Regions from separate parts of the Homo sapiens genome. Here all the other regions are reported to be linked to region 1. The links are microRNA targets in miRTarBase. Many come from high-throughput screens and were not tested one by one. Region 1 holds a microRNA gene; each other region holds the end of a gene's coding sequence.
What was found. The annotated mature microRNA hsa-miR-578 reads CUUCUUGUGCUCUAGGAUUGU and lies in region 1 at 2,839-2,859, shown strand. An mRNA with a match to its seed (bases 2 to 7 or 8) in the 3' UTR can be bound and repressed. Matches are read on the target gene's strand: a 7mer-m8 pairs with bases 2 to 8, a 7mer-A1 pairs with bases 2 to 7 and ends in A, and an 8mer does both.

Region 1 (4,078 bases):
GTTAAGATTAATTTGCTTAAAACACTATTTCTTTTACACGTAGTTCAAGATAGCTTTTGGGAAGTAAATCTGATTTATAGCTAAAACGCTATCTCAAAAACATTCTTTAGAGCAGGATTTTTCTTTCTCAAAGGCTGGAATGATTATTTTGGACGTATTCCTCTCTGAATCTGTTAAAATATAAAGTGTATAAATGCCAGTATGAATTTGCCAAATATTGTGATGGAACATTTAATGCTGGCAAAGTTTCCACACAACTTGAAAAAAATAAGTGGGGATTTTTATTATTTGTATGGCGTCTTTTTATAGCAGATTAGTATGTGTTAGTGGCAAATGGTTACAACTAAGTAACAACTTAAAATTCGTGAAGATAGATGTTAGATCCTAGAGAAGAATCTAGACCTACCACACATGGTCAAGAGTTATTTTTAGACCTGAATGAGTCAACACAGCTTTTGCCAGAAGTGATGTTCTTGATTGACTTGTAATTGGTTAATGGAAGAGAAGGCAAGTTGGGCTTGCCCCTACATGATAGCCTTTGCTCAGACAAAAGAGGCAGCTTTCTGTGACAACTGATTTCAGAGGTGGCAGACGACTCATTTGCTAGTAACTCCCTTACCGTCTTACCACGGGGCGAAATCCTATTTCTAAATATTATTAAGAAATACAAAATAGCTCTTGTAACGGGTGACACATTAACCCAGCTTTTCTCAAAATATATTCCATAGAACATATATTCAGCATGGTTTGATAGGCATTATGTAAACAAAGATAAACAGGTTTGTATATTGAAAGACCTAACAGAGCTCTTAATAGGCTAATGTATGTTTCAAATCTCCAAGTTAGATTCGTACTGTATAAGATTTCCCAGGCTTTTACCATGGGATTTCCTCCTCTCCCGCTGGCTGGTGGCTCACACCTGGTTGAGGCAGGAGGAGTGCTTAAGGCTAGGAGTTTGAGATCTGCCTAGGCAACATCATGAGATCCTGTCTCTACAAAAAAATAAAATTAGCTGGGCATGGTAGCATTTGCCTGTAGTCCCAGCTACTTGGGGGGCTTAGGAGGGCGCTTGAGCCCAGGAATTTGAGGCTACAGTGAGCCATGATTGTACCACTGCACTCCAGCCTGGGCGACAGAGCGAGACCCTATCTCAGAAACAAAATAACAACAACAACAATAAAAAAGGGAGCTTATCTTGGAAGTAGTGTTACACTTCCATTAGCCCATTATCATTCTTTATCATAGTATTAAAGATTCATTTGTCACATGAGACTGGATGTAGAACAAAGAAAAAAATGATTCAGTTGGCAATTCTCCAGCAGAGGGCCTCATACAGGGAGCTCTTCAGGGGTAGGGAACATATGTTTTCCATTTTTTCCCTCCATAAACAGCTAGTGTAGTGGTTTATGTAGAGTAGGCTTTTAAGTTTTGCTTAGAATCAGAGCATGATTCTGAGGCAATGAGGCAGAGGAGAAATAATTTTGTTTGTTTGCTTTTTTCTCTCTCTTACAGAGCTGAAAAGGACACATAATTTTGATGAAAATGATTAAAGTTAGACAAATGCACCACAATTCTTCTTTTATTGTTAAATAGCTTCATGCTTTTTACTTTTGTTCACCTCTTTTCCTTGTGTATGACAAGGGAATACGTTAAGAACACAGAACTCACAGGATCGCTGTGAGGCCAAAGTAGTGTAGTATATAGAAACACATTTAATGAAGTTGCTTACATCTGGTTATTAAAAAGAAATGCTAATTTGTAAATATTCTTTTTTTACTTTCAGTTGGTCTGGAAACTGTGCTCCATGGCCTTTACACTCATTTAGAGTAGGCACTCTTGGCTGCATCGTCACGTGAGATCTGCCTCCACCAATCCTGCCAAATGCTTTCCTCTTAGGATGCTGTTGCACAGGCTTAGTTGATAGCCCTGAAGGACTTTTTCCCTCTTCTTACTGTTTTATTTTTGTTCACAAATGTTTGCTTTTTTTTTTTTTTTTTTGAGATGGGGTCTTGCTGTGTCACCCAGGCTGGAGTGAAGTGGCACGATCATGGCTCATTGCAGCCTTGAACTCTAGGGCTCAAGGTGTCTCCCTCCTCAGCCTCTTGAATAGCTGGACTACAGATGTGAGCCACCACACCCTGCCTGTTTGCCTTTTATCAATTTTAAAATGTGGGACATTCTTGCTTTTCTTCAGTTTGACATGATGATGAACAATAATCATCAAGCAAGCTTGAATCAAGCAAGCGTCACTCAATAGGACACTCAATAGGAACAAAGTGTGCATCAGTATTTGAGAATGTCTTTATGGTTGTTTCTTTAGGTAGCCAAATAAATCTACGGCAATATCAACATTTTCATTGGCAATCTGACTTATTTTCCTAAAGAATTTATGATGAAACTGCTCCAGTCCTGACTAACTTAGTCTTTTACAGTCTCAGCAGAAGCAAAAGCTCTTTGAAACCTCCTTTCTCCCCGCTCCCTAACTTTCTTACCCCTGCTGGGGCTCTTTCTTTATGCTTCCATATTTCTTTGGAGAGCTGTAAAGAATTACAGTGTGGACTTTGATGTCAGGGGACTTGAGCTCAAATCCTGAGGCTTCTTATTTTTAGCTGAGTGTCCCTGGGCAAGTCAATTAACTTCTCTCTATCTCCCAAATTCATCACCTATGAAATGACAATAATGTGATGATTAAATGAGGTGGTAAATATAAAGTTCTTAATTCAATATGTGGCAACAATTATTATTACCTCATTATGGTATTTCCCACTGTTGGTCTACAGATAAATCTATAGACAAAATACAATCCCGGACAACAAGAAGCTCCTATAGCTCCTGTAGCTTCTTGTGCTCTAGGATTGTATTTTGTTTATATATATTTTTTAATCCTGAATGTCTAGTATTATGCTTGGGACATAGTGGCCACTCAGTGAATATGTTTGAATAAATGAAATTTCTCAAATAGGCAAAAATGCATATCATAAAACAAAGCCATGTTGGTCGATGTTGACATCATGCATATTAGCATGCCAGTAGTGTGATAACAAGAAAGGATAGAGATGGTACTTTTCTTTTGCATATGCTTATTTTTTGTGTGCACTGAATCCAGTTTTGCATAATGGAGAAATATACCAATGTGAATTACATGTCTTTTCAAGTTTCAGTGCTGAACTTGCTGTGTTTGTTGTCTCATATAACTGGACTAGTAAGGGGCTGTCTTCCTTTTGGAAGAGAAGAGTCTTCAGACATCTTAGAAAGTTAAGCTGCTTTTTAAGTGTTAAATAAACATTTTAAAGATAATTGGTAAGCATTTATTTAGTAAAATTTTGACCTTTAAAAACTCTGCATGAGACCTGAGTGTTGAAAACTAAGAACTGTGTGCTTGTTTTTAACACAGAAGATATGTATCTCCAGGTTTTCATTTTCCTTTTTCTCATGAAATGGTATTCAAATCGTGCACTTTGAAATGCCACAGAGGAGGAGGTTTATCCGAGCTACGTGATGGGTCAAATGAACTTAAATTTGAAACATGTTTAAATTTGCCCTTTTGTTTCCTTCTCATTAATTACTGGAATTGCCGTGAGTCCGTTGCTCTGTGAACGTTTCTCTTTCTTTGAACATTCAGGATATGGTGTTTTGTAAGTGATCTAACAGCCAGCTTTTTCTAATAAAACATGGCCTAAGAGAAGAGCCTGTTTGTGTTACTAGTGTCTTTTATGATTTTCAAATGATTTACCCACTTCTTTAACTGTCCCTAGATGAGTAATCTTTGAAGGGTAGGGTGGCACATGTGGAGTATTAAAGAGATGGCTGTTAAGCAAAGATAAATGAATTACTTATGATAATACACCGTGGAACAACTTTCCACTACTGGTAAATATTTTGTTTTCTACAGAAATCTCTTTACTATCAAATCATTGCTAAACATCATAGTTCTATAATAATCCCCTCATTTGAAGACATTTCATTTCAAACAAAGGCTCATTATTTTAAAATGGATGCAAATTGTTTATTTTCTAAATAAGCCTAAATATAACTTAAATTCAGGTTGCTAAAAAACCTCTTCCTGGCCGGGCGTGGT
Region 2 (4,078 bases), not on the chromosome of region 1:
CTTTAGAAGACATGGCCATGTATTGGGGAGCTCCAAGTTACCATGAACACTTTGCCTCCCTTGACAATACCATACCATTATTAAAAGAAAACTCACTGTTGCACTGACCATGAAACTAGAGTTTAGACGAGACAGTGTTTCTCTCATTTGGATTGTGGCTTTAGTTTGTTTCCTGATGTTTAAGCTAAGTCTTGGCTATTAAAGTCAAAAGGAAAAATGGAAACATCCAAATAAATGCTTGAAAATCTGGTGGACCAGAATGCACAGAAAATTAACTTCAACTTAAAGAAAAAAAAAAAGATTATAGTCCTAGTTAGGATGGGCGACAGAGCGAGACTCCGTCTCAAACAAACAAACAAACAAATCACTACAATATATTTTGTTGATTAAATTTGAATTCTGTTGTCTGTATATATTGAAAACTTATTTTGGTTTATTACCACACAATGTAATGCTGCTTACCTGTTGATGCTTTTTTTTCTCTCCCAGACTTGGCTCTTCAAAACAAGTCTTAGGTAAGACAACAGACAAAGCAGGGCAAATTTGAGTATGTGCCGTTGTTTTCCTTCTATTTTTTTTCTTTTTGGTTTGAAAACATACATTTTATAGAATGGCATGATATAAACTATCCAAACACAAAACACACATGAACACATCAAATGACAGGTCATTTCCTTTTGCAGAAACTGGCTTAAAAAATTGATATTGAAATTTCATAGTTGAAAAAAATATTTCTGAATGTACAAATAAAGCAGCAGTTTTGAATAGAAACAGGAAGTTACCTAGGCACATTCATTAGCCACATGGTAGCTACCTCTTAGCCTCATTGTTGATTGTGTGAATGAGACTTTCTTTGTATCACATTAATACATGTTTTTGGTTATTTTTTCACAAAAATGAAAGAAAGTATGTTGGTTTCATATTCAAATGAATTATGCCCAGGATAATCCTTATTTATACAAAAAGAGTTTAGAGAGTGAAAAAGAGAAACAGAAAATATGGTTCTCATACATGTCTTTTTGTACCCCAAAAAACTTTGGGGCCCACTTTTCAAAGATAAAAACTTAAGTGCCACCTTTATAATGCATGGGAAGCTGAAGGATGGAACAAAAGACAGTATAAATCTAGCATTTTCTCTAAAGCATGAAAAACCATAATGGTGAGTGTGACCAGTTGGAATTTCTCTATAACGCACACTACATTTTCTTGGATACACTTTTGTCTCCAATGTGACCATAAATATATGGAGTCATTCTCTGATTTGGGCTTCCAGTGCATGGGGTTGCAAATAAGAGAACCAGAGTTTACAGAAATAGTAGAATATTGACAATTTCACATGAGTCAACCTTATTACTCATGTTGACCTAATGGGAATATGATTTACCTTTAAAACTTTTTAGTTTTTAAAAAGCCTACCCTGTTTTATAGTACACTTAAATACATTTCCCTGCTTCTTTTGGACTAAGACAGGCTCCTGTGACTGACTTAGTTTTTGAAAAGAGTTTCACCTATTTGATTCAAAGGATTCATTCAGAAAGCAATCTAGTGAATGGTTCACTTAACAAATTCTATTCCATTGTCCTTAATTTCAGGTAAAACTGTAAAGGTTGAACACATATCATCTCATGAATTAAAAATGTAGATATATTTTACAGGTGGGTCAATTTAATTCATTTTAGACAAAGTTTTGCATTGTTCTAAATGCAAGTATTCCTCCTTGGCTTAAATGATTGATCAAACCTAATTCTTTTGGTTCTTATTGATATAAATCATACTGTTCCTTGATTGTCAACTAGCATTTTAAGGACTTCCCTAAATTCCACCAATAGAATTCTCAATCTTATTGGTCCTACATGCCTCAAAGAATTAAACTGAAAGAAAAAGTTCTTTCGGCAACACCAATATACAAAAATACAGTGAAAACAGGCAAAAAGATGATACCCCCTCCCCATTTGCAAAACCAAGGTGACTATTCATGGTAGGTGATGACAAAGACAGAGGTGTAAAGACAAAACCCAGAGGTGTTGTAATTTAGAGGGAAGACTATTGTTCAAATACAATGAGACCTTTCCAGGAGACCACTCACCATTTCACAGAATATCCCTAAGCTTTTTTGACAAATGACCTTTCAGACCAGGTCCAGAAAGTGTCTTTAGCTGAAATTTCATATAAAGAATATTCCACCTGTTAAATAAGCATCTTGGTTTACTAGTGGCCATCAATACAGGTTTCACTATTCAAGACAGCTAGTGAGAAACCAGAAAAGCTCACAGAATTTAAAGCCACTTGGCTCTATGAATCAGTTCATATCCAGAACTCTTCATGCTGAAACTGCTAAACACAGCAGGTACAAGCTTCTGCTATCAATGAATACACATTTAAAGAAAAGAGAGACAACTCCCCCCACCCTCTTTTTTTTTTTGCACTATGTAAAACACCAGTGGAAGGTAGTTTAAACAAACAACAAAGAAAGAACTGGTCCGGCCATGTCGGTCAAATAAATTTTTTTTTTTTTAAAAAGAAAAGAAACGAAAACAACCTCTATCTTCTGGACTGTAATAGGGTGTCACTTCATCTTTGGTATAAAATAGGCCATCCATAGGCTGAATTTGATCACAACTAGGAAAGACTACAGAAATTGTCAACAATTTCTCTATCTATTGCTTTTTTTTTGTTTTTTTTTTTGCACTTTTTGACCATAAGCTCCTATCTACTTAAGTTTTTTTTTTTAATGCTCTTAAGCTAGGTTTTGCAATGTGACAAGCAAAGCTGACTAAAAACTTTGTAAAGCTCATAAAAAAGACTGCAGATAAAAAGCACTAATGCTTTTGCTAGCGATCACGCTTTGTAAATTAAAAAAATCTGCATTCTGCCCCCCAAACACGCATTATTTCTAATGCAGTTGTTTTTAAACCAACCTTAATAACTTTACTGTAAAATGTTTTAGCCTTTTAGAATGATTCATGTCAACACTTAAGACAAAGTTCATGAAAAGTCCCAGCATTTTTCCAATTCTTGCAGTTGCCATGGTTTATCAACAAATTTTCTTCAAATGAAGAAAAACATTTTCATTTAAACTGTACAGTTTTTTCTTCACCCTAAAAACTCATAGTCTTAAACTTCTGTGCCAGTGAAAGCCGGCACAGTATTTCAATTCTTTCTTGATTTTTGTTTTCAACAAGACGTTGACAGCTTGCCTCGAGAGCCTTTGACGTCCTTAAAATTAAGGCAATTAAGATTCAAGATAAACCTTACCTACATATTTCTAAGAAAAAATAAAATAAAAAACCCACTAGATTAAAACAAGAAGGGAAAAAGAGAAAGTAGCTTAATTATTGAGGAAGACAATTTGTTTCCATTTCTATTGCCCACCTCTTGACATCAGGTTTTCTGTTAAAAAAAAAAAAAAAGTATCTACACCTTCAGAAAAATTCTGAATTCAATTCAAATGTTCTTCCACATAAAATATCAACCTTCAATGTTTTGTTTTTTGTAGTTTTTTTTTCCTCTTCTGGAAATTTTTTCTTTAATTAAAAAAATGATGGCAAAAATAAATTGTCAGACCACATGAAGACCATTTGCACAGCACATAAAAACTTTGCTTTCATTGGGTAAGGTATAACACTAAAAAAAAAACAACAACAACAACAAAAAAATGCATTCCATTGACGTCTGTGCAAACTGGAAGCCAACTTCTTGTTCAATGAAGTTTCTTCATTCAAGGCAAAGATTCAGACAGACATTCTTCAGTCCTGTTTATGGTCTGTGAAAACAATTGAATAAGAGTGGTCATTAAATTAAAGTAACTTTGAAATCACCTTCTGTGCCCTTTTCCAATGAGGCAGCTTTAAAAGATACCAAGCTTTCAATGTAACATAGTCACAAAAGCATCATAAAATCATACTGAGTCTATGAGATTGTCAAATTCTGCCACTTTCATTTAAATACAGATTTGGGCCAGAGAGTTTGTTTACATTAAAAATCAAGGGTAATAGCTTATGTTATAGCTCCTTACAGATCCTTTGAGTAATTCTGTTCCTTCAAAACTACTATAGGAATCATCACTAATTCCAGCAAC
Region 3 (4,078 bases), not on the chromosome of region 1:
TTATCTCCCCGTCCAAAGGTTTATATTGGCCCTTCCCCAAGGGCAAGCTTTGGTTATATGAAAGAAGAACTTACATTTAATAGCTGATCTAATATGATTAAAAAGAGAATGTTTTCTATTTAATTCACTAATATGCTCTTTCCTCTTTTTCCGTCTAATGGCTTTGTCTTTCTCTTGTTTTTATAGGCTTTGGTGAAGCACGTGCAGTCTAAAGGATACCCAAATGAACGTTTTGAACTTCTCACCAACTTTCCTCGAAGGAAATTATCTCATCTGGACTATGATATTACATTGCAAGAGGCAGGCCTTTGTCCTCAAGAGACTGTCTTTGTACAGGAAAGAAATTAACACCATGGCTTGACCTCTCTCAGCTTACCCCTTTTTTCCCTTTTCCTGTGAGATACATGTCACTAAGTATGCATTTTGGCTCATAGGACCACAGAGCCAAAGTTGGGCAAGCAAGTCACCTTCCTTCTCTTATTTCTTGATCTCTCCTATAATCAGTCTCTTTCTCCCCCTTTGTTTCTTTCTCCTCTTCTGTTTTCTCGCTCCCCACTCCGTACCCTTCTGCCTCCCCCTCCCCCCACACTTTTCTTTCTTACCTAATCTGGTGACCAAACTGAAGTGTAAGGATAAGACCTCTCCTAGTACTAGCAGCAGGAATTGTGTGTTCCAGTAAGTGGTCTCTTGCACGGCACTTTTTTGGGATCAAATGTTAACGTTACTCCCCAGACTCTTCGGGCAAAGGAATGGCTAGATTCAGAGTAAGAACAACCCTCCCTTTTTTGTAAGTCCCCGTGTTTAGCAGGGAGAAGAAATTCTCTAACATGGGTTTGGTTTTGTTGTGTTCTTCATGTGGAAATGTCGCTTAACAAAATATCCAGGCTTTTGTTTACGTGGAAAAAGCATCCCTTGTAATGATTGCTCATCATACTTAAAAACCTTTTTCAAAGGATTTTCATGTTCCCAGCTATAAGGACTATTTCCATGACATGTGTTATTGGCAGAATGAGTGTTAAATATGGAGCATATAGCATGGGGTGACTTTCATTGTCCTAACCTGAGACAGTTTTCCTTATTACTCTGTATTGATCCTGCTAGTCCAAGAATGGACATGAAGTGAACCTATCGTGGTGACTGGGATAGGAAGGTGCTTGCTATTTTTGCCAGCACAGCATATTAGTTCCTTTGGAGCCCTCCATTGTCTGAGTCTGCAGTGATCTGTAGGAAGGCAGCTGGTCAATAATCATGTAGTACAATGGCTTGGAATTGTAACCACTATGGTTATTGATTGTCCTGTGTTGTTTCAGGCATACTTAGGTATGTCCCTGGGGAAAAAGAAAACCATTCAGCTGAGAGTTGCTAACCATGTTCTTTTGGTTAGAAATAATGGTTCATTTTTTGCCCCTGGTTGGAATAGTCTCTAAAAGGCTCTGGTGACTGAATTGAACATGAGTCCGCATGCTGTTTTCTTTCAAAAGGTATCAAAACGGAAAGCCTCTCTAAGGGGAAGACCTTTCAACTCCATTCAGAAGACAACATTTAGTAAGGAGGATGGCGGAGGTTACTAGTAATTTTCAGATGTCTTGGGCTTTTTCTGCCAACAAAACCCAAAATCAAATTAGAGTTGGTGAAAGCTTTCTTCAGTGTTTTTAGAAGAGGCCATCTTGAATCTGTAGAATACCATTTACACATCAACTTCACCCTATGCTCATTTCGTATTTTGAGCTTAAATGGAGTCCTCTGAAGGGGGGGTAGTCGTGATTCTGGTGGCAAAACTAGAACTTTTAACTTGTAAAATGAAAAATATTAAATGGACCTTTTTGTCAGTTGAGGATTTAGATTGATTCTTTTATCTGAGGAGCGTATGTTCCTCAGATGTTGCGTAGAGACCTTTAGGTTTTCATCTACTTTAAGATTGCTCTCTTGGCAATTAGGGGATTTGGGAAAAGAAGAAAAAAAGATGCCATGTGTTGCTAGTACACAGTTATAGGATATGGTTTCTAATGGTTGAATTTTGAGGAACTCTCCCTAAAGAATGAGTTTTATATCTCCTCAAGGAAATCATGGAAAAATCTGTTTATTCTTCAGTGAGTCCTTTTGAATTAATGTTCTTAAATTTTTTTCTAAGTCTGTGTAAGTGCTTATGTATAAGTATATAATTGTATAAATATTTATAAATATATTTATATAATTACGGTTTCATTTCTACCTTGAGTCAAAGTTCTGTCTTTAGATTGGTGACTGAGTAATACTTACACTTTGGTGTTTTTTCTTAGGTTCTTGAGGCTTACTTAACTAGCAGCTTCTGATTTATTGAGTGAAAGATGGTTTTCATGTTAATTCCTCAGTTGCATCTCTGAACTTGGATAACATACTTGCCGTTTGAAAAATAGAGCTGTATACTGTCAAAGGTGCACTGGAGGGTAAAACATTTGTTGGTAGTAGACAAGCTCAGAAATCCAAAAATTCAGGGAGGGCACAGGGTAAGAAGAGAGGTTTGCTCAGCTTTGTGCTCTGATGGCACCCATCTGTACTCCAGCAAAGTCATAGCTGAAGCCCAAATCGCTCAAACGTGTGAAGTCAATCATTTTTCCTATAGGGCTCTGTTTCCTTTTCTTTACCTTCTAGCTTCTCTTGATAAAACAGTTGGGAGAACTGCCAACGTGTTCATCAGTGAGAGGGTGTGGTTCTTTCCGATATGTTCAGCACGTGCATATTCATTTATGAGAAACCAAAGTAACTTCTTCAACTCGGGTTACTGTGGGATGATTAAGTAGATATAAAGTGATTTAAAAGACAGCATGGTACTTTCACTCAGCTTAACATGCAGCTGGGATGTCTACAATACAAGATGTGGTGGGTTTTATTTTATTTTATTTTGAGGCAGGAGTGTAATTATCTTAGGGTTGATATAAAGGCCCATGGGAAGAGTTACGGATTGTACATGGGAAGAATCCATAAGGAGTATTGCCTTGCTCAAGAATTTAATCCGCTGACAGTATGCTTCTTCCAGTTTGCCTTACTTCCTCTGCAAGTTTCTTTGCTCCTTAGGGCAGAGGTTTTATTGAATAGATTAAATGAGGTCAGTAAGATTAGTTAAAAATAGTCATTCCTTGTGGGTGTTGGACACAGCTTGAAAGGAGTGTTTAAAAAAAAAAAGCTAGGGAGGAAAAGAACAAGAAAGATAGACTTCGAGAGTGATAAGAGAAAAATACAGGGAGATGGAATGGAAACTACCAGGAAGGCCGGGCGCGGTGGCTCATGCCTGTAATCCCAACACTTTGGGAGGCGGAGGTGGGCAGATCACCTAAGGTCAGGAGATCGAGGCCAGCCTGAGCAACATGGTGAAACCCCGTCTCTACTAAAAATACAAAAATTACCTGGGTGTGGTGGCGTGCACCTGTAATCCCAGCTACTCAGAGGCTGAGGCAGGGGAATGGCTTGAACCTGGGAGGCAGAGGTTGCAGTGAGCCAAGATCGCACCATTACACTCCAGCCTGGGCGACAAAGCGACACTCCATCTCAAATTTAAAAAAAAAAAAGAAGAAGAAGAAGAAAACTAGTGGGAAAAAAGTGAGAGGAATACTTTTTTGAAATTGGTATCGGAAGGAACTGGAGAAGAGAAAACAACAGTGCCAAATGAGAAAAGAACAGGAAACTTAATACTAATTGGCATGCACCAGATACTTTTGTGTACATTTGCCTCTTCAATCTCCCGAAGAATCGTACAAAATGTATACTTTCTTCCCATGTTAAGAAAACAGGTATAGAGAACTTATTCAGGACTCATAGCTAGTGAGTGGCAAATCAGAATTGGAATCCAGAGTCCATGCTGTGGTCTCCTTCAGCAAGAGAATCAAGCTACCCAGATGATTCTCTTCTCATTGTTTGGCTTTGTAAAGTGTCACTTAGTTTTGTTCCCATAAATATAGAGGAAGTAGTTGGGTTAAAGTTGTGGGATTTGCACTATGCCTATACATTTTTATTTATGCCATTATTTTGAGAGGCTGATTATTGCTTTTTTAAAATGATGCACTGGTGAAGATGTGAAAGTAAAATTGCCACGTGGCATTAT
Region 4 (4,000 bases), not on the chromosome of region 1:
AAAAAGGATCGGCTGCTTTGTGGACAAGGGGCTGTGGAGCAGACACAATGACAGACCAGATGAGAGGCCATTACAATAGTCCAGTGGTTAGAATCCTCAGCCCTCAGTCTGGTAGGTAATGATGGTATTTGTTTCCAAATATATTAAATGTACATGTGAACTTATTATTTTTTAGGAAAGTCGTGACAAGTGCTACCTAATCCAGAAACTAACAGAAGCCCAAAGGGACATGAGGAACTAACTAGACTGAGCGTGAAGATGGTGCTGCCTGTTGCTTCTAAGCTGACCTAGTGATTCTGCTGAGCCTACAGAGTCTACCTGGGTTTTGAGTGGACATTTAAAAATATATTTTTCTTGAGTTTAGGCTTTTCCATATGTGCAGCTGTGTTTACCTAACCCAGCCCTTAATTAGGGCTTCAGTGACTTAGAAAAGCAGGGGAAACCCAAGGCTTTGCCTGCAGACCGGCCACTCTGTGACAACTCTACCAAAAACCAACAAGCCATTCAAGCTTTTACAAGAATGAAAGAGCGGAGACGGTAGTTTAGTATTTGAGCCACGAGTTTATGTGCACAAGTGTTTTGGGTTGTGGACTGAAGCTCAGCCTGTTAATCAGACCAGCCCATGAGTGTATAACAAACAGAATTGGAGGCTGGTTTCTTAAACACACACGTCCACATTTTTTAGGGTTGTTTTCCTGTGCTTACAATTTTTAATGCATGTGCCTTTATTTCACAAAACATGTGGCTGGGCGCAGCGGCTCACGCCTGTTATCCCAACACTTTGGGAGGCCGAGGCAGGCGGAGCACCTAAGTTGGGGAGTTCAAGACCAGCCTGACCAACGTGGAGAAACTCCGTCTCCACTAAAATACAAAATTAGCTGGGTGTGGTGGCACATGCCTGTAATATCAGCTACTCAGGAGGCTGAGGCAGGAGAATTGCTTGAACCCAGGAGGTGGAGTTTGCAGTGAGCTGAGATCACACCATTGCACTCCAGCCTGGGCAAAAAGAGCAAAACTCTCCCTAAAAAAAAAATGTAGAATATCTCTTAAGATTTCCGTTATGGTAAAAACCATATGCAATAAATACCTCATTGTAAGCTTACCCAAAATTGATAGATGTCAACCTTTTAACAGAAGAACAGAAGTTTAAGTTATTGTTTAATGTAATCAGTTTTCATTTTAATATCTTTGAAATCTTTTTCAAAGGACTGTAGTTTTGTAATGGACTTTTCAAGCCTTCCTTCCATTGTTTTTCTTCCGTTCACTGGCTCCACACGTTTCCTGGGGAGTAGCCTGGAATTTAAAGTTGGGTGCAGGTTTTAGAAAGCTGTTGCTGTTAACAATAATTCTCCCGGCCATCTCCACTCCACTACTCAAAAATGCCTGAATCCTTGCTCAGAGGAGCAAAGGTATCTTCTCGTCCCTTTCTTACAGCCATTTTCTTGCTTTTCCACAAAGATATTATTTAAAGTGGAATATTTTTGTAACTGGGATACCAATGAGCTTTTCGGTCTTTTCCTGACTTGGTAAGGTTTATGGGTTTCTAAATCTAATAACTACAGTCATACCACCCTGAAAATGCCTGATCTCGTCTAAATCTAATAACTGGTGTCATGGAATTTTGAGTAACCAAAGATTCATTCCAGTCTCACTTAAAAAAATAAATTCTGCTGGGCACAGTGGCTCATGCCTGCAATCCCAGAACTTTGGGAGTCCAAGGAGGGCAGATCACCTGAAGTCAGAAGTTTGAGACCAGCCTGGTCAATGTGGCAAGACCCCGTCTCTACTAAAAGTACAAAAATTAGCCAGGCATGGTGGCGTGTGCCTGTAATCCCAGCTACTTGGGAGGCTGAGGCATGAGAATCACTTGAACCTGGGAGGTGAAGGCTGCAGTGTGCGAGACCGTGCCACTGTACTCCAGCCTAGGTGACAGAGGGAGACCCTATCTCAAAAAAAAAGATAGGTGAAAAGAAAAAAAAAGTTGTAATTGTAAACATTTCTGCCCAGTGCCTTTATATTTATATAACATTTTCACTGTGACCAGACTTGATGATATTCAAGTTTTCTATTTGTGTGTGTGTGTGTGTGTGTGTGTGATGAACACAACGAAAACGTACTGCGTTTTTTTTCCTATTATAAAAGTGATACTGAAATATGCTAATTAATATATTAATTTTAGTTAAATGCTGCTAATATGCATACCTCTTACTTGAAGGTTTTTAATATGTTTTGATAACTTTAATAACTTCAGGTGATGTCTGTATAACTTTTAAAGTGCAGCTCTCTCTAACAAATGTGCCTTACAACTCCTGATTAAACGGCGTCTTGAAGGTTTTAAAATGTGATCGTGTATACTGGAATTCAAAGAGGCTTCTTGTCAGCAGTCAAGTGATGATGGAAAACTGTAATAGTTTGTAAAGTTCCTCTTTGCTTTTTCCTAAAATGAGAGAAAAGAAAGAAGTGTTTAATGTAGTCCTCAGATGAGTGCTTTTAAAGCTCCTTGGCTCTGTTGAAGCCAAGGAGGGTGTATGTGTGTAACTGCCCAACTGGTTCATTTTGCCCGCTGCCTGGATACAGCCCATTCATCAAGACAGAGGAATTGCAGCAGAGGAATTGCAACAGAGAAAGCGTTTGATACATGCAGAGCTGGCTAAACAGGAGACCAGAATATTATTATTACTCAAATCAGTCTCCCTGAAATTTTGGAAACTGGGTTTTCCTGTGTATGTATTTTCTCTCTCTCTCTCTGTGTGTGTGTGTGTGTGTGTGTGTTTGAGACGAAGTCTTGCTCTTGTTGCCTAGGCTGGAGTGCAGTGGGGTGATACTGGCTCACTGCAACCTACACCTCCCAGGTTCAAGCGATTTTCCTGCCTCGGGCTCCCGAGTAGCTGGGATTACAGGTATGCGCCACTACACCCAGCTAATTTTGTATTTTTAGTAGAGACGGGGTTTCTCCATGTTGGTCAGGCTGGTCTCAAACTCCCGACCTCAGGTGGTCTGCCTGCCTCGGCCTCCCAAAGTGCTGGGATTACAGGCGTGAGCCACCGTGCCCGGCCGTGTTTTTTTTTTTTTTTTTTTTTTAATATGTAGTCTCTATTGCCCAGGCTGGAGTGCAGTAGTGCGATCTCGGCTCACTGCAAGCTCTGCCTCCCGGGTTCACCATTCTCCTGCCTCAGCCTCCCGAGTAGCTGGGACTACAGGCGCCCACCACCACACCCGGCTAATTTTTTGTATTTTTAATAGAGACAGGGTTTCATCAGGATGGTCTTGATCTCCTGACCTCATGATCTGCCCGCCTCGGCCTCCCAAAGTGCTGGGATTACAGGCGTGAGCCACTGTGCCTGGCTGTGTTTTTTTTTTTTTTTTTTTTTGAGATGTAGTCTCACTCTATTGCCCAGGCTGGAGTGCAGTAGTGCGATCTCGGCTCACTGCAACCTGGGTTCAAGTGATTCTCCTGCCTCAGCCTCCCAAGTAGCTGGGACTACAGGTGTGTGCCACCATGCCCAGCTAATTTTTGTACTTTTAGTAGAGATGGGGTTTTGCCCTGTTGGTCAGGCTGGTCTTGAACTGCTGACCTCAAGTGATCCTTCCACTTCGGCCTCCCAAAGTCTGGGATTACAGGGGTGAGCCTCCGTGCCTGGCTGGAACTAGTTTTTTTAATGGATAATTTGGTGGGTAGGGGGATGGAATTAGGGAATAGTATGCATTTTTGTTTTTTAAATTTTGTTTTGCCATTATAAAAATACTTGTTTTTTATAGCAAATACAGAGAACATCAAAAGCAACAGAGAAAAAAACTTAAAAAGCAGCACTTATGGGCACGCACTGTTAATCCTGGCAAAATTCTTTTTAAGATAGAAAGTACAGAGGGAGGGAAAAAGAAGGAAAAAGAAGGAAAGAACTTTGGTATTCTAATTTCTTTTTCACTTAATATGTGTTTTCCTGAAGAATCTAGTGTTTTCTCCTGTTATTAAAAGCTCTTTACAAACATTTCAATGGGC
Region 5 (4,078 bases), not on the chromosome of region 1:
AGTGAAGACCTTGGAAGAGACAGCACAAAACTGCACTTGATGAATTTTACTGCAACATACACAAGACATCCCCCTCTCTTACCAAATGGCAAAGCTCTTTGTCATACCACATCTTCCCCTTTACCAGGAGATGTAAAGGTTTTATCAGAGAAAGCAATCCTCCAATCATGGACAGACAATGAGAGATCCATTCCTAATGATGGTACATGCTTTCAGGAACACAGTTCTTATGGCAGAAATTCTCTGGAAGACAATTCCTGGGTATTTCCAAGTCCTCCTAAATCAAGTGAGACAGCATTTGGGGAAACTAAAACTAAAACTTTGCCTTTACCCAACCTTCCACCACTGCATTACTTGGATCAACATAATCAGAACTGCCTTTATAAGAATTAATTTGGAAGAGATTCACGATTTCACCATGAGGACACTTATCTCTTTCAGTGGTCCTCCCAAGAAATTATTTAACAAACTGAAAGGAGATTTTGATTAAAATTTTGCAGAGGTCTTCAGTATCTATATTTGAACACACTGTACAATAGTACAAAAACCAACATAGTTGGTTTTCTAGTATGAAAGAGCACCCTCTAGCTCCATATTCTAAGAATCTGAAATATGCTACTATACTAATTAATAAGTAAACTTAAGGTGTTTAAAAAACTCTGCCTTCTATATTAATTGTAAAATTTTGCCTCTCAGAAGAATGGAATTGGAGATTGTAGACGTGGTTTTACAAAATGTGAAATGTCTAAATATCTGTTCATAAAAATAAAAGGAAAACATGTTTCTTCAAATTGCATAATGGAACAAATGGCAATGTGAGTAGGTTACATTTCTGTTGTTATAATGCGTAAAGATATTGAAAATATAATGAAATAAAAGCATCTTAGGTTATACCATCTTTATATGCTATTGCGTTTCAATATTTAAGATTTAAAGTGATTTTTTGGTCACAGTGTTTTGTTGATAAAATTTTTTTAGAATTGAAGTTTGAATTCTAAGACTTGAAACAACCTGATCACTGAAGCCAACTTTGTCCCAGCACATTCCTTAAGTCCTAATTGGGAAAAAAAAAAAAAAAAATGAAATAGTTGAAAAACTCTGGGGTGTAAACAAATGATTGTAACCCTACACACTATTCAATAAGTAGTAGAAGGAGCATCACACAGATTTCAGTCTAATCTGCCCTTCTGTGGGCCATAATATAAACATAAATGTGTGTAATGATAAAAAGTCATTTTCTTCAAAGAGACTACAGCTAGCTGCACATTGTGTAGAGCAGCTTCTAAATTGTTAGACTTTGTGTTGAAATGTAATATTCTATTTATTGAGAAAGTGATTTAAAATTATTATTTTTAATCATAGAAATCAGGGTTTGGGCTGTATTGATATTGTCGATCATGAAATGTCCACACTTATTCTAAGTGGCCAATTATTTGGAAATAAAGAAGGAAATAAAGATGGCTTCACATGGAAATTTAAGTTCTTTCAGGGTGGAGATTTACTTGGTTCATACACCTTTTGCCTGAATTAAAGTATTTCATGTAGGAGGACTTTTATCCTTTTTGATAGACAGTTTCATATATCTTGAACTCAATATCTCAGATCTCTTCTACTGTATTACTGAATAGCATACATACATAGACAATGTTCGCCATTCACTAGATATTTTTTTCTATTATCTTACACTTATTCAAGCTTGTCTGTGATTAATGGAATTGGTGTCAGATGCTGGAATTTATTCTGACCAATGAACACAGCTGACTCAGGGGAGTACAATCTCCTGCCAAGTAATAGAACCAAACCCAATATGCATAAAAGAAATACAATACTCCAGGCTTTAGCTGAAGGAAGCAACTACCTGTGTAATAACAAAGCAGCAAAAACTATTTCTCATGTGGCTGCATAGGCTGTATATTATATCTGATCTCTAATGTAGCTTACTGGTTTGCCTTTTTTAAAACCAAAATTGGAAATTTTCCTTTGTAAAGAAAAAAAGTCTTATGAGATAATTGCTTGATTAATGTTTTGAACAATACCAAGAAATTGTTTAATTAAAATAAATATTTTTGTTTGAAATTGAAGTGGATGTGAAATATTGTCCTTGCCTATAGATCTCAAAATCTAGTACTAATTGTTGGTTGTTAATATGATTCATACAATAGACATTTGTTAAACCAGCTTTTGAGTGGAGAAAATTATTTTCCATTTAAACAGTACAGTGATGATAGCTATCAAACAGGTATACTAAAAAGTCAGTGACTGTGACAGTTTAAAGTGTTAGACAAATGATGTATAAGGTTCTTTAGTAAGGAAAGATTAGCCAAAAATTTTTTACCCAGCTAGAAGCTTTTAAATCTACACTTGATATCTCTGTTCTAGGTAAAATTCAAACAACCAAAAAACAGTGGCCCATCTGTAGCTTATGAATCTATTTAAAATTGAATATTTTATGTTGACTTCTTTCATACTAGCTGAAACTTGCTCTAAAGAGCTTCCTTTGGAATCTTTAGATTTCTTTTTATAAGGTTCAATTCAGTACATCCATAAATCGACAGAATGAAGAAAACATAACAAAAAGCCACCTATTCCTTCCTCTTGCTCCCTTATTAGCTAAAGTAAAATTTACATCTGTAAGACTTACTGAGTTGCTGCCAAAATGGAACTGAATTCTTAAAAGCAGGAACATGCCTATGTGAAACATTAGAAAACCAAAATAAATGGGAAAATTCAGACTTGAAGAGCTGAATCATGTGACAACAAAGTACTGATCTTAATTCAGAAAGGCTACTTGGAGAAGGTGTATCTTAAGGGGTAAAAAACCTGTGGGTTACCACATATTAACAGGGAATAATATCAACAGAGGCACCCATAAGCAAGCAAGACACAACTGAGACAGATGTACCAGGTGAAAAAAATCTTCAGTATGGATACACATGGGTATTCTGAAGGCTACAATGAATGGTTTAGTCTTTGACATAAGGAGGATGAACATATTATTTATACTGTGTAATCTAATCTGGCTTCTATGGGGAAAGCAACATGTACATAAGTGAATTTTCTACATGAAGTGGGCTACTTCTGATTTTAATCAAAGCTATAAAATAGATTGTATATTTCACTAGCTTCTTAAAGTAACTCTTCCATTTTCATTTATCTCTAAAAACAGTTAACTTCCTGTGCTCTAGGAAATGCACCAATACCAAAGGTCAATGTGGAAATATGGGCATGTTTGCCCCTATGCTGTGTGGTCTCTAGATTTCTATATTTGCTTTGCTTTTGTCTGCTCTAGTAATCTCCCTCCTTTTGATCTGTGGCCTGGGAAAATGTGGTTTCTTTGTATTTCAAATAAAAGTAAAATAGTTTTTTGAGTGGTTCACTCAAGAGTAAAGTGTGGAACTTGAATTGATTCTTTAGTGTCCTATTTAAATTCTTTCTTAAAAAAAAATCTCTCAGATCTATTGCATGGGATTAGGGAAAGTTAAACCTTGTCTTAGTGGGTAGTAATTTCTATTTGTGATTTTAATGAGGACTGTGAAAATATACGTAAAATTTACTTATCTTGAAACTAGTTACAATGGCTGTGGAAGAGTTAACAGCTCATGGGGAAAAAATAACTTTTAATATAAAAGCTCAAATTATTAAATTGGGACATAAATTTTTTATACTACTTCCTGAGTCCATTACTATGTTACAGAATGGTAATTCACTTAGAAATATAACTTTTCAAAATGAAAGATTAAAGGACTAACAAGTTATCAGGTTAAGAACATTATGTTTTAGAAAATTCTACATCAAAGATGTAAGTAAAATTAATTCATATAAGTAGGTATCTCCTTATCTATGGTTCTGCTATGGTTTGATGTGTCCCCCAAGAGTTCATGTGTTGGAAACTTAGTTGCTAATTTAACAGGACTAAGAAATGGAGCCTTTAAGAGGTAATAGGGTGATGAGGCTGGAGCCCTCGTGAATGGATTTATGCCATTATTACAGGTATTAGTTCTCAAGAGAGCGGGCTGTTATAAAAGTTTGCCCACACTTGTTTGTCCTTCTATTTTTTACACCCTATTATGTTTTGATG
Region 6 (4,078 bases), not on the chromosome of region 1:
ACGGTCTTTCTCTTTCAGGTGATCCAAACCCCAGAGCCGGTGGCCCCGACAGAGCAGGTGATCACTTTGGAGGAGACCCAGCTTGCCGGGTCGCAGGTGTTTGTGACGTTGCCAGATTCTCAGGCATCTCAGGCCAGCTCTGAGCTCGTGGCGGTGACTGTGGAGGACTTGCTGGATGGCACAGTGACGCTGATCTGTGGTGAGGCCAAATGAGCAGCCTTTCATCCGGCAGAGCCTTCCTGCGTTTGCAGCAGAGAGGAGGCCCCACAGCTTGCCCTTTGCCCTCCATCCCTGGCTGTCCTGAGTGGTGAGCATCTTAGCTTAGCACCAACCAACACAGTCTCACCTAGAAAACAGATGGAAGCTTCGTTGTTCTCATAGAACCAACAGCATCTGAGCCCTCAACACCAACAGCACCATCCTCTGTAGCAGACAGGCCTCCCTCCCCACAGGCCCGCTGCTGCGGCCTCTATGACACTGTCCATCCCCAAGTGACATGTGGCTTCAGAAGTAGAGTCTGAAAGAGCAGTGGGATGGGAGCTGGTGACCAGGGTACCCCAGGAGGCATGATGTGCCGACAGCGCTCAGTGGGCAGAATGGCAGTTAGATATGGGACTTGGCCCACAGTGGGGGCTGCAAATGCTGCCACTGCCTCTGGCCATTTAAAGTGAGAGGGGCACCAACAGACAATTCGGGGACCTTAGGCCCCTTCCTGAGGCACACTTGGCCCCTTCCTCGGTCCTATCATCCTACCCTCTGCTGGGGTTCCCCCTCCACCCAGTGGCCACGCCCAGCACCCTATTGATGGCTATAGGACAGGTAGCCCTCATTTCCATGCCTGATAACCCCTTGTCAGTTGTCAGCTCTTCCCAAAACAAAGCTCTGGAGTTTCTGCTGGAAGTGTTTAATGTGAGGCATCAGCTGCTAGACAGTGTCTGCCTTTCCAGGACATTCTTCTTGGTATTCCTTACCTGAAGCCTGGTTCCCACAGCTCTTCCGTGTCATCTTCATCCCCTTCCTTTAATCAAAGGCTGAAATCTCTGCCTGACCTGGCAGCCTGGCTCCCTCTGGGTCATATGGTGCAGACTGTGACCAGCACCAGGCAGGCAGTCCTGTCTGCGTGTGGAGGAGCAGCCGTGACTGCCCGTGGCTCTGCTGCCGCCCACTCCCTGCCTTGTGAGTGGCCTGCTGCCTCACCTCCCGCAGGCCGCCACACTTATTGCAGGTCAGTGATCCTTTGGAGTTTGAATTTCACAAAGCTTTTTTTATCTTCAGTTCCTAAAATATAATCTGATAATTAATGGTTTGTGGAATCCATTATGAAGTGCAATTAGATAGATGTAGGTTCCTGCCGTTTGGAGAGAATGACTAGCATTTATCTTCTTTTCCTTCCATGCCAAAGGTTGGAGTCTGCTGGTGCGGTGTTTACACACCAGGCAGGGCTGTCTGCCACCTTGTGTGGCTTGACCCCCTGTGGAGGGGAGTGCCTGGTTGGATCCCACACTGGCAGAGATGGGGCCACCCCTTCCTTCCAGGCACATCTCACATTGCCATGTACAGAGGCAGGAGTCACGTTTGGTCACCATGGAAGCTTTTATTGCTCCCACATGGTCAGGTCTCACCCTGCTTGAAGCGCAGAAGGCACAGCCTTACTGACCAGCACGCCCACTGACTGGCATCTGCCGGCTTTGTGCAGGCAGCCCCGACGGTTTCCACAGCGAGCGCCAGCTCCGGCCAGCCTGGGACAGCTCATCCCAGCCGACTACACCTGCTTCTGGTCCTGTCCACATTTTGATACGCAGATCACTTGAGCTTGTCAATTAGGGTTCTGCCATTCTGAAATAAATGAAGTTTCTAAAGCAGAGTCGGCCTCAGAAGCCAAAAACTGACCAGAAGATGGTGCTCAAACCTTTAAGACTTCATCTCCATGTGAAGGGCTCACTGTTTCTACCAAGGCTGTGCCTGTATTAAGGCTTTTCCGTCCTGGGAACTGTCAGTCTGGGAGAGCTCTTGATCTGCAGGTGGCAAAATGGCACTGAATATCCCCTTGGCAGCAGAGAAAACCCACTGAAAGATCGTAGAGTGGCACATGCTTACAGGGCATTGGTGCCAAGTCCAGTGGATGAGAATCCAGCCCCTCACAAGCTGTGGGATGGGGCTTGGGAGTTGCAGTGAATGTCATTAAAATTTCTTCCAAAACAAAACTAGAAATAATTGCTGAGGGCTTATAGGGAAGTGATTTAAAAAGAAAAAACAAACAACAACAAAAAAAACTCTTCGGAATAAAGAGGGCTGTAAATTTTGAATTCCAGTGTCAGATCCTTTCAAGCACTGAGAAATTCTTTCTCAGGTTTCTTTTTTTGGGGGAGACAGGGTCTTGCTCTGTCACCCAGACTGGAACACAGTGGCACGATCTTGGCTCACTGCAACCTCTGCGGGCTCACGCAATCCTCCTGCCACAGCTTCCCAAGTAGCTGGGACCACAGGCGTGAGCCACCACTGCTGGCCAGTTTTTGTATTTTTTTTTTTTTTTGTAGAGACAGGGTCTCGCCATGTTGCCCAGGCTGGTTTAAAACTCCTGAGCTCAAGCAGTTCTCCCACCTGGGCCTCCCAAAGTGCTAGGATTACAGACATGAGCCACTACGCCTGGCCAGGTTTCTGTTGGAGACCCAGATTGTGACAAGACATTTGTTTTCTTCGGAATCACCAGATTTGCAGCTTACTGTGCCGAGAGTGGACTGGCTGCCGGGGCCCATCAGATGCCCTCTGGCCCATGGCACACTCAGCAGAAGGCACAAACCCAGTGCTGGTTCTCATCAAGAAAGAGGGGAAGGCCCTTCCCGAGTTTACTGTCTGCTCTGAGTGGGCTCCGCACTGGCTGACTGATTTTATAGTCTTGCTCTCTAGAGAAGCCCAGGCATGGATCTTATAGGAAAACTTTCTGACTCTGCTTGGCCATTTTATCCTTTTCTCCTACTTCTGCCCAAGAGACCTGAATTGCTGCCATAGAGGACAGTGTTTGTGTGGTCTCCTGAGTCCACATCGCTCGCTTCCATGGGGTCCCGGTGTTGTTTTTGCCTCGTTCCCCATAGGCTGCTGCCCTTATGGCCTCTGGACTGAACTCTGGGGCCTTTGGGGTGGTGTGAAGGAGTCTGTGGGCTTCTTGGAACACATGGATCTGTTCGGTGGGTCCCCAGACCTCTGCTCCCAGAGCTCATGGCCCAGGTGGTGAGGAGGGAAAGGCAGTCAGATTCCAGGCTGGAGTGTGATTCTGTGGGAATACTGGGGTCAGTTATGGAACAGGACTTGCCCATCATAGGTAAGTGAGACAGCAAATAGATGATTCAAGAGCAAGGATTACTGCGGGAAGGTGAGACTCCTACTGTCCACGCGCATGAGCAGAACCTGGAACCAGAGGGGCAGGGACCAGGGGTCTTTACTCATTTATTTTATGGGTAAAGAGACATGAAGAGACAGCCTCTCTCTTCTGTCTCAGAAGCTCTGTGTTTGGGAAACTTTGAGCCCAGTGAGTAGCAGGGTCTGCAGTGTGAGTACCAGGTTTCCCTGGCAATCCAGGTCTCCTCTGAGGAAGCATTCTGACTTCCCACTGACCACGGAAGGCATGTCAGCTTCATGCCTCGGGCTAGAGTTCTGATAATCGGGGCTGAGGGGTGAAAAGAAATCCAGTCAGACAGACAGTGGGGAGACAGGTCCCTGCCCTTTATTTGCGGGATCAATCAGGGACTCCCAGAAAGGAAGGAGAATGGTGAGAAGGGCCCTAAGAGTTCGTCTCTCACCTGGGGGCTGGTGACGTGGTCACCACAAGCTGAAGACAGGCTAATGGGGTGGCGGGTGTGTGTTTAAACCTCACGTGCCTGGAAGCTGCACATTGACCAAAGGAGGGAGGGAAGTGCTAACCATGTATAGAGTGGGCAGGCGGTTCCAGGGAGACAAGCAGCATGTTATTAAATTGGGCCTAGGCAGTTGGACGATAATGGAGAAAAAGCAGGGATGCTATAATGAGTCCTCCCCAAGGGTGAGTTCAGCACCCCAGCCCTGTTCTGCTTGTATCCCAGTG
Region 7 (4,078 bases), not on the chromosome of region 1:
TGGAGTGGGCTGAGGACTAGACTGAGCCCTCGGACATGGAGGTGGGGATGGGGCAGACTCATCCCATTCTTGACCAAGCCCTTGTTCTGCTCCCTTCCCAGGCTCTGTGACTGGGGCAACCTGCAAGGAGCTGGCCAGCCAGCCTGATGTGGATGGCTTCCTTGTGGGTGGTGCTTCCCTCAAGCCCGAATTCGTGGACATCATCAATGCCAAACAATGAGCCCCATCCATCTTCCCTACCCTTCCTGCCAAGCCAGGGACTAAGCAGCCCAGAAGCCCAGTAACTGCCCTTTCCCTGCATATGCTTCTGATGGTGTCATCTGCTCCTTCCTGTGGCCTCATCCAAACTGTATCTTCCTTTACTGTTTATATCTTCACCCTGTAATGGTTGGGACCAGGCCAATCCCTTCTCCACTTACTATAATGGTTGGAACTAAACGTCACCAAGGTGGCTTCTCCTTGGCTGAGAGATGGAAGGCGTGGTGGGATTTGCTCCTGGGTTCCCTAGGCCCTAGTGAGGGCAGAAGAGAAACCATCCTCTCCCTTCTTACACCGTGAGGCCAAGATCCCCTCAGAAGGCAGGAGTGCTGCCCTCTCCCATGGTGCCCGTGCCTCTGTGCTGTGTATGTGAACCACCCATGTGAGGGAATAAACCTGGCACTAGGTCTTGTGGTTTGTCTGCCTTCACTGGACTTGCCCAGATAATCTTCCTTTTTGAGGCAGCTATATAAATGATCATTTGTGCAAGAAAAAAAAAAAAACAAGAACAGGTTTCTATAACAACATCTCTTACTATTTTTACTTGAAAAAATGTTTTGCGTAGCAGACTGTCATAGCCTTGAACGCCGGCTCCCTTTCTTCCTCCCTCCAAGTGGCTCTGGGGCTGTTGATTTCCGCAGAGCTTGGGTTGGGGTAGGGGCTCAGCCTCACCAGCTTTCAGCAGCTGGTCTAGGCCAGCAGTGCCTCCCCACCTCCCCAAGGGGAGGGGTGGTGGCAAGACCTCAGCACAGTCTGTGGTATCACAGGGCTCACTGGTAGAGCAGGTAGCGCTTCATGGCAGGGGGCAAGGGCAGGGCAGACACCTGGCCGAGCCGGGTATCCCCCAGGTTGTGGCGCACACACAGGCGGCTCAGGTGCAGAAGGGAGTGTGGCTCCGCTGGGAGAGAGAAGGAGGGGAATGTAAGTATGGGTGCAGCCACCAGCCAGATGTCCTCAAACTACGGGGTCCTACTCAGATGCCTTTCTGCTTTCCTGCTTCGAGTGTGCCCACCTGGCTGAAAGGGGAATTTGAGATACCCGGAAGTTCTGCCTCCCAGATAAGATTTCACACATCCCTAGTCAGAGCTGGGGGTGAAGAGCTGGCTAAGGCCCTCTAAACAACAGGCCAAGGTGGCTCTGACAGTGGTGGAGCTGGCCCAGGCTTTGACTCCAGAGGCTTGGGAGCTGGGGCTGAGGTGAGGAGGGATGGCCCTCCACTCTACAGCCCACACAACTGCAGAGAGCAGCTCCAAGCCCTGGACCCAGTCAGTTCCTGGGGAGGCTCCTCCCCTGCTGCCCCACCCTAAGGCCCTGCCTCCTCCACTGCTCTCCTCCCTGGTGCCCAGGGCCCCAGTGTCTCCATCCAGAGGTGTGGCTGAGGAAGGAAGTAGGTATGTGGCACAGAGACAGGTTAGAGCCCAGGGAATCCGGTATACAGCCTGGGTACCTGGCTCTGCCCATCCTTCTTTTGGACCTGTACATCAAACCCAGTACCTAACGCTTTGCACCTCTTGCTCAGGGGTTGATATCTCCTGAATTCTCTCATCCCTGCAGTTCCTCCCTCCATTCTGAAGGTTCACCATTTACTGGCCAAGAGAACTTGAGAAAGTTGCTTTCTCAAGCCTGTTTCACCTCTATTGCTGTTGGGTTAAATTAAATAACAGCTGTGAAGACCCCTAGCCTTTCCCAGCACTGAACAGAGGTTGAGGCAGGCTGGATGAAGGTCCATCCCCTCTGCTCTTGTCAGAAGAGTTTCCATCCCAAACCACTGCCACCAGGGACAGAAAGTTCTCCCCACGTCTGCCCCAGGCCTCACCTCTCCTTTCGCCCAGGTAGCGGATGCGGACCTGGCACTGGCCCCAGACAGCGCTTACTGCCGGATAGAGGGTCCTGCCCTTCAGTCCGCGGAATGCTGGCCCCAGGTAGGTGCCCCCAATAGCGTAGCCCAGAGTTCCCTCCTCCATGTCCAGAACCACCAGCAGTCTCTCTGGCACCTCCAGCTGCTCACCCTGAGTTCCCGCTGGATACTGGGGGGCTCCGGGCCCCTTGCTCTGATGGTACAGCTTCCCCCGCCCGATGTCCCAGCCCCACGACTCGCTGTTGCTGCCCAGCAGCGCCGCGTAGTGGTCAGTCTGCAGCGGGGCGAGGGCCGTGGCCACGCCCACCACGGCATGCGTGCCCCTCTGCTCTAGGGGCCAGCTGATCTCCCAGGCGTGCAGGCCCCTTGAATAGCCCCTCTTACCCCGGGCCCCATCAGTGCTCTGGGCCACGGGCCGCCGCTCAAAGTACAACCCTCCTTCCTTGACCTCGATGTTCTCTGAACAGTCTTTGGGGTTCCAACCGTGGCGCCGCTGGGCCCCCAGGTCAGGAGGGGGTGCAGACAGCAGCTCTTCCAAGCCCTCGGGACAGGAGAGGTCAGGGTACAGGGCCTGTGGCGTGGGGGTGCTGCTGCTGCCCCCTGCCAGAGCTGTCTGGCCCATGGAGGTGAGGAGCTAGAGGACTCCCCGAAAGAGGCTTGCTGGGGCGTCTTTCTCTTCTGAAAGTTGAGCTCCAGTTTGGATTGACCTGGAAGGGAGCTGGGAGAAAAGGGGCGTGAAGAGCAGAATCCTGGCGGGGGCTCGTCACCCAGGTACCCCATCCTTTCACCCAAGTTTGCCAACGGGCCCGCTCCTCCCTCCTCGCTGCCCCAAAGCTCCTGGGCCCTTCATCTGCCCTCGCCCCATCTGATCCAGGTCGCCAGAGACTCTCGCGAGTTCGCCCCATTTGGGCCTCAGCATGGACCATCCCCCTTACTCGCCCGGAGCCCTCGCCGCTGCCCCCGAACCTCGGTTGACTTCCCAGCCCTGGAGGTCGCCGGGCCTCTGAAGGAGCCGGGCGGAAAGAAGCCGAGGCGCGCAGGGCGCAGACCGCCGGCCGCTTCCGCCCCCAGCTCCTCCCTTGGGCCGAGCCCGTCCCGCGGCCCCGCCCCTCCAGGGCCCTCTGGGGCTTAACCCTCTCATCGCCGCCCACGGCCGTGCAGCTCCGAGGCCACGCCCCTGTGGGGCCCCGCCCCCTCCTGGGCAGTTACCGCTCTATACCGGCAGCAGCCGCGGAGAGCATGCCCCGCCCCCGTGGAGCCCACCCCGGGCGGTTAACCTCGGGTCTCAGTCCCGGGCTGTGACCCTCCCCGAGGCCCCGCCCCCACGGCGAAGGCCCGGGGCAGTTAACCCTTCTCTTGCTGCGGCAGAGTCCGCACCCGGGCAGGCCCATCTCAGAATTAACGCTTTGATGGCATCACCGCGTCGGGAATCCCTGGGGATGGTGTTCTCCACCGTCAAGACCTTTGAGCCGCCTGAGCGACTAACTCCTGCGCCCCTGAGGGTAAGGAGCATGGGGTCAAGGAGGGGCTTCATTGTGCCGAATCCCATTTCTACTTCCCTGTGATTCTGGGTCACTGTTTCTGGGCTGGTCCCTTTCTGCCCCGGGTTGTGAGTCAGCCTGTGCCACCTCTGAGGCTGTGAAATCTGCTTCAGGCTCTAGGCTGTACGCATCATAGTTCTCCCTGCTGGTCCAGTCTTCATACTGGATGCCAATCCATTACTGAGCCGTTGATCTCATTTGGTAGAGTGTCCTGATTAAGACTTCGAGTTTGAGTGAAGCTATGCCACTAGTTAACTGCGCGATCTTGGGGAAGTTGCCCGATTTCTCTTTTTTTTTTTTTTGAGACAGGGTCTTGCTGTCACCAAGGCTAGAGTGCAGTGGCGCCATCACAGCCCACTGCAGCCTTGACCTCCTGGGCTCAAGTGATCCTCCTACCTCAGCCTCCCAAGTAGCTGGGACT

Region 2: miRTarBase lists RBMS3 as a target of hsa-miR-578. Seed matches in the 3' UTR shown: 7mer-m8 at 3,694-3,700, 7mer-A1 at 3,158-3,164 and 7mer-A1 at 1,203-1,209.
Region 3: the mRNA of UBXN7 is a reported target of hsa-miR-578. Seed matches in the 3' UTR shown: 8mer at 3,179-3,186.
Region 4: miRTarBase lists TMC7 as a target of hsa-miR-578. Seed matches in the 3' UTR shown: 7mer-m8 at 515-521.
Region 5: the mRNA of AZI2 is a reported target of hsa-miR-578. Seed matches in the 3' UTR shown: 7mer-A1 at 451-457 and 7mer-A1 at 2,037-2,043.
Region 6: miRTarBase lists ZBTB40 as a target of hsa-miR-578. Seed matches in the 3' UTR shown: 7mer-A1 at 2,818-2,824.
Region 7: miRTarBase lists TPI1 as a target of hsa-miR-578. Seed matches in the 3' UTR shown: 7mer-A1 at 745-751 and 7mer-m8 at 761-767.

What each region holds. Positions count from the first base shown.
Region 1 is chr4:165,383,464-165,387,541 of GRCh38, forward strand. It overlaps MIR578 (microRNA 578), which reads left to right and starts at 2,779; the gene lies at 2,779-2,874. All of the region lies in intron 1 of CPE (carboxypeptidase E), which reads left to right.
Region 2 is chr3:30,003,541-30,007,618 of GRCh38, reverse strand. It overlaps RBMS3 (RNA binding motif single stranded interacting protein 3), which reads right to left. Exons shown (of 15, transcript NM_001003793.3): 15 at 1-3,763. The coding sequence ends at 3,757. Among named protein-coding and RNA genes, the nearest start is that of RBMS3-AS1, 71 kb to the right of the region's middle.
Region 3 is chr3:196,352,955-196,357,032 of GRCh38, reverse strand. UBXN7 (UBX domain protein 7) reads left to right here. Exons shown (of 11, transcript NM_015562.2): 11 at 187-4,078. The coding sequence ends at 348. Among named protein-coding and RNA genes, the nearest start is that of TM4SF19-DYNLT2B, 17 kb to the right of the region's middle.
Region 4 is chr16:19,061,603-19,065,602 of GRCh38, forward strand. TMC7 (transmembrane channel like 7) reads left to right here. Exons shown (of 16, transcript NM_024847.4): 16 at 176-2,340. The coding sequence ends at 241. It overlaps COQ7-DT (COQ7 divergent transcript), which reads right to left. Exons shown (of 3, transcript NR_119381.1): 2 at 2,203-2,437; 3 at 1,152-1,293. Among named protein-coding and RNA genes, the nearest start is that of COQ7, 4.0 kb to the right of the region's middle.
Region 5 is chr3:28,320,357-28,324,434 of GRCh38, reverse strand. AZI2 (5-azacytidine induced 2) reads left to right here. Exons shown (of 8, transcript NM_022461.5): 8 at 1-3,388. The coding sequence ends at 393. CMC1 (C-X9-C motif containing 1) reads right to left here. Exons shown (of 4, transcript NM_182523.2): 4 at 1-4,078. Among named protein-coding and RNA genes, the nearest start is that of ZCWPW2, 26 kb to the left of the region's middle.
Region 6 is chr1:22,526,184-22,530,261 of GRCh38, forward strand. ZBTB40 (zinc finger and BTB domain containing 40) reads left to right here. Exons shown (of 18, transcript NM_014870.4): 18 at 19-4,078. The coding sequence ends at 213. Among named protein-coding and RNA genes, the nearest start is that of EPHA8, 35 kb to the right of the region's middle.
Region 7 is chr12:6,870,164-6,874,241 of GRCh38, forward strand. TPI1 (triosephosphate isomerase 1) reads left to right here. Exons shown (of 7, transcript NM_000365.6): 7 at 102-785. The coding sequence ends at 220. SPSB2 (splA/ryanodine receptor domain and SOCS box containing 2) reads right to left here and starts at 3,140. Exons shown (of 3, transcript NM_032641.4): 1 at 3,083-3,140; 2 at 2,075-2,834; 3 at 772-1,156. The coding sequence starts at 2,738. The coding sequence ends at 1,029. RefSeq lists enhancers at 558-1,143, 2,470-2,709 and silencers at 1,800-1,919, 3,100-3,549.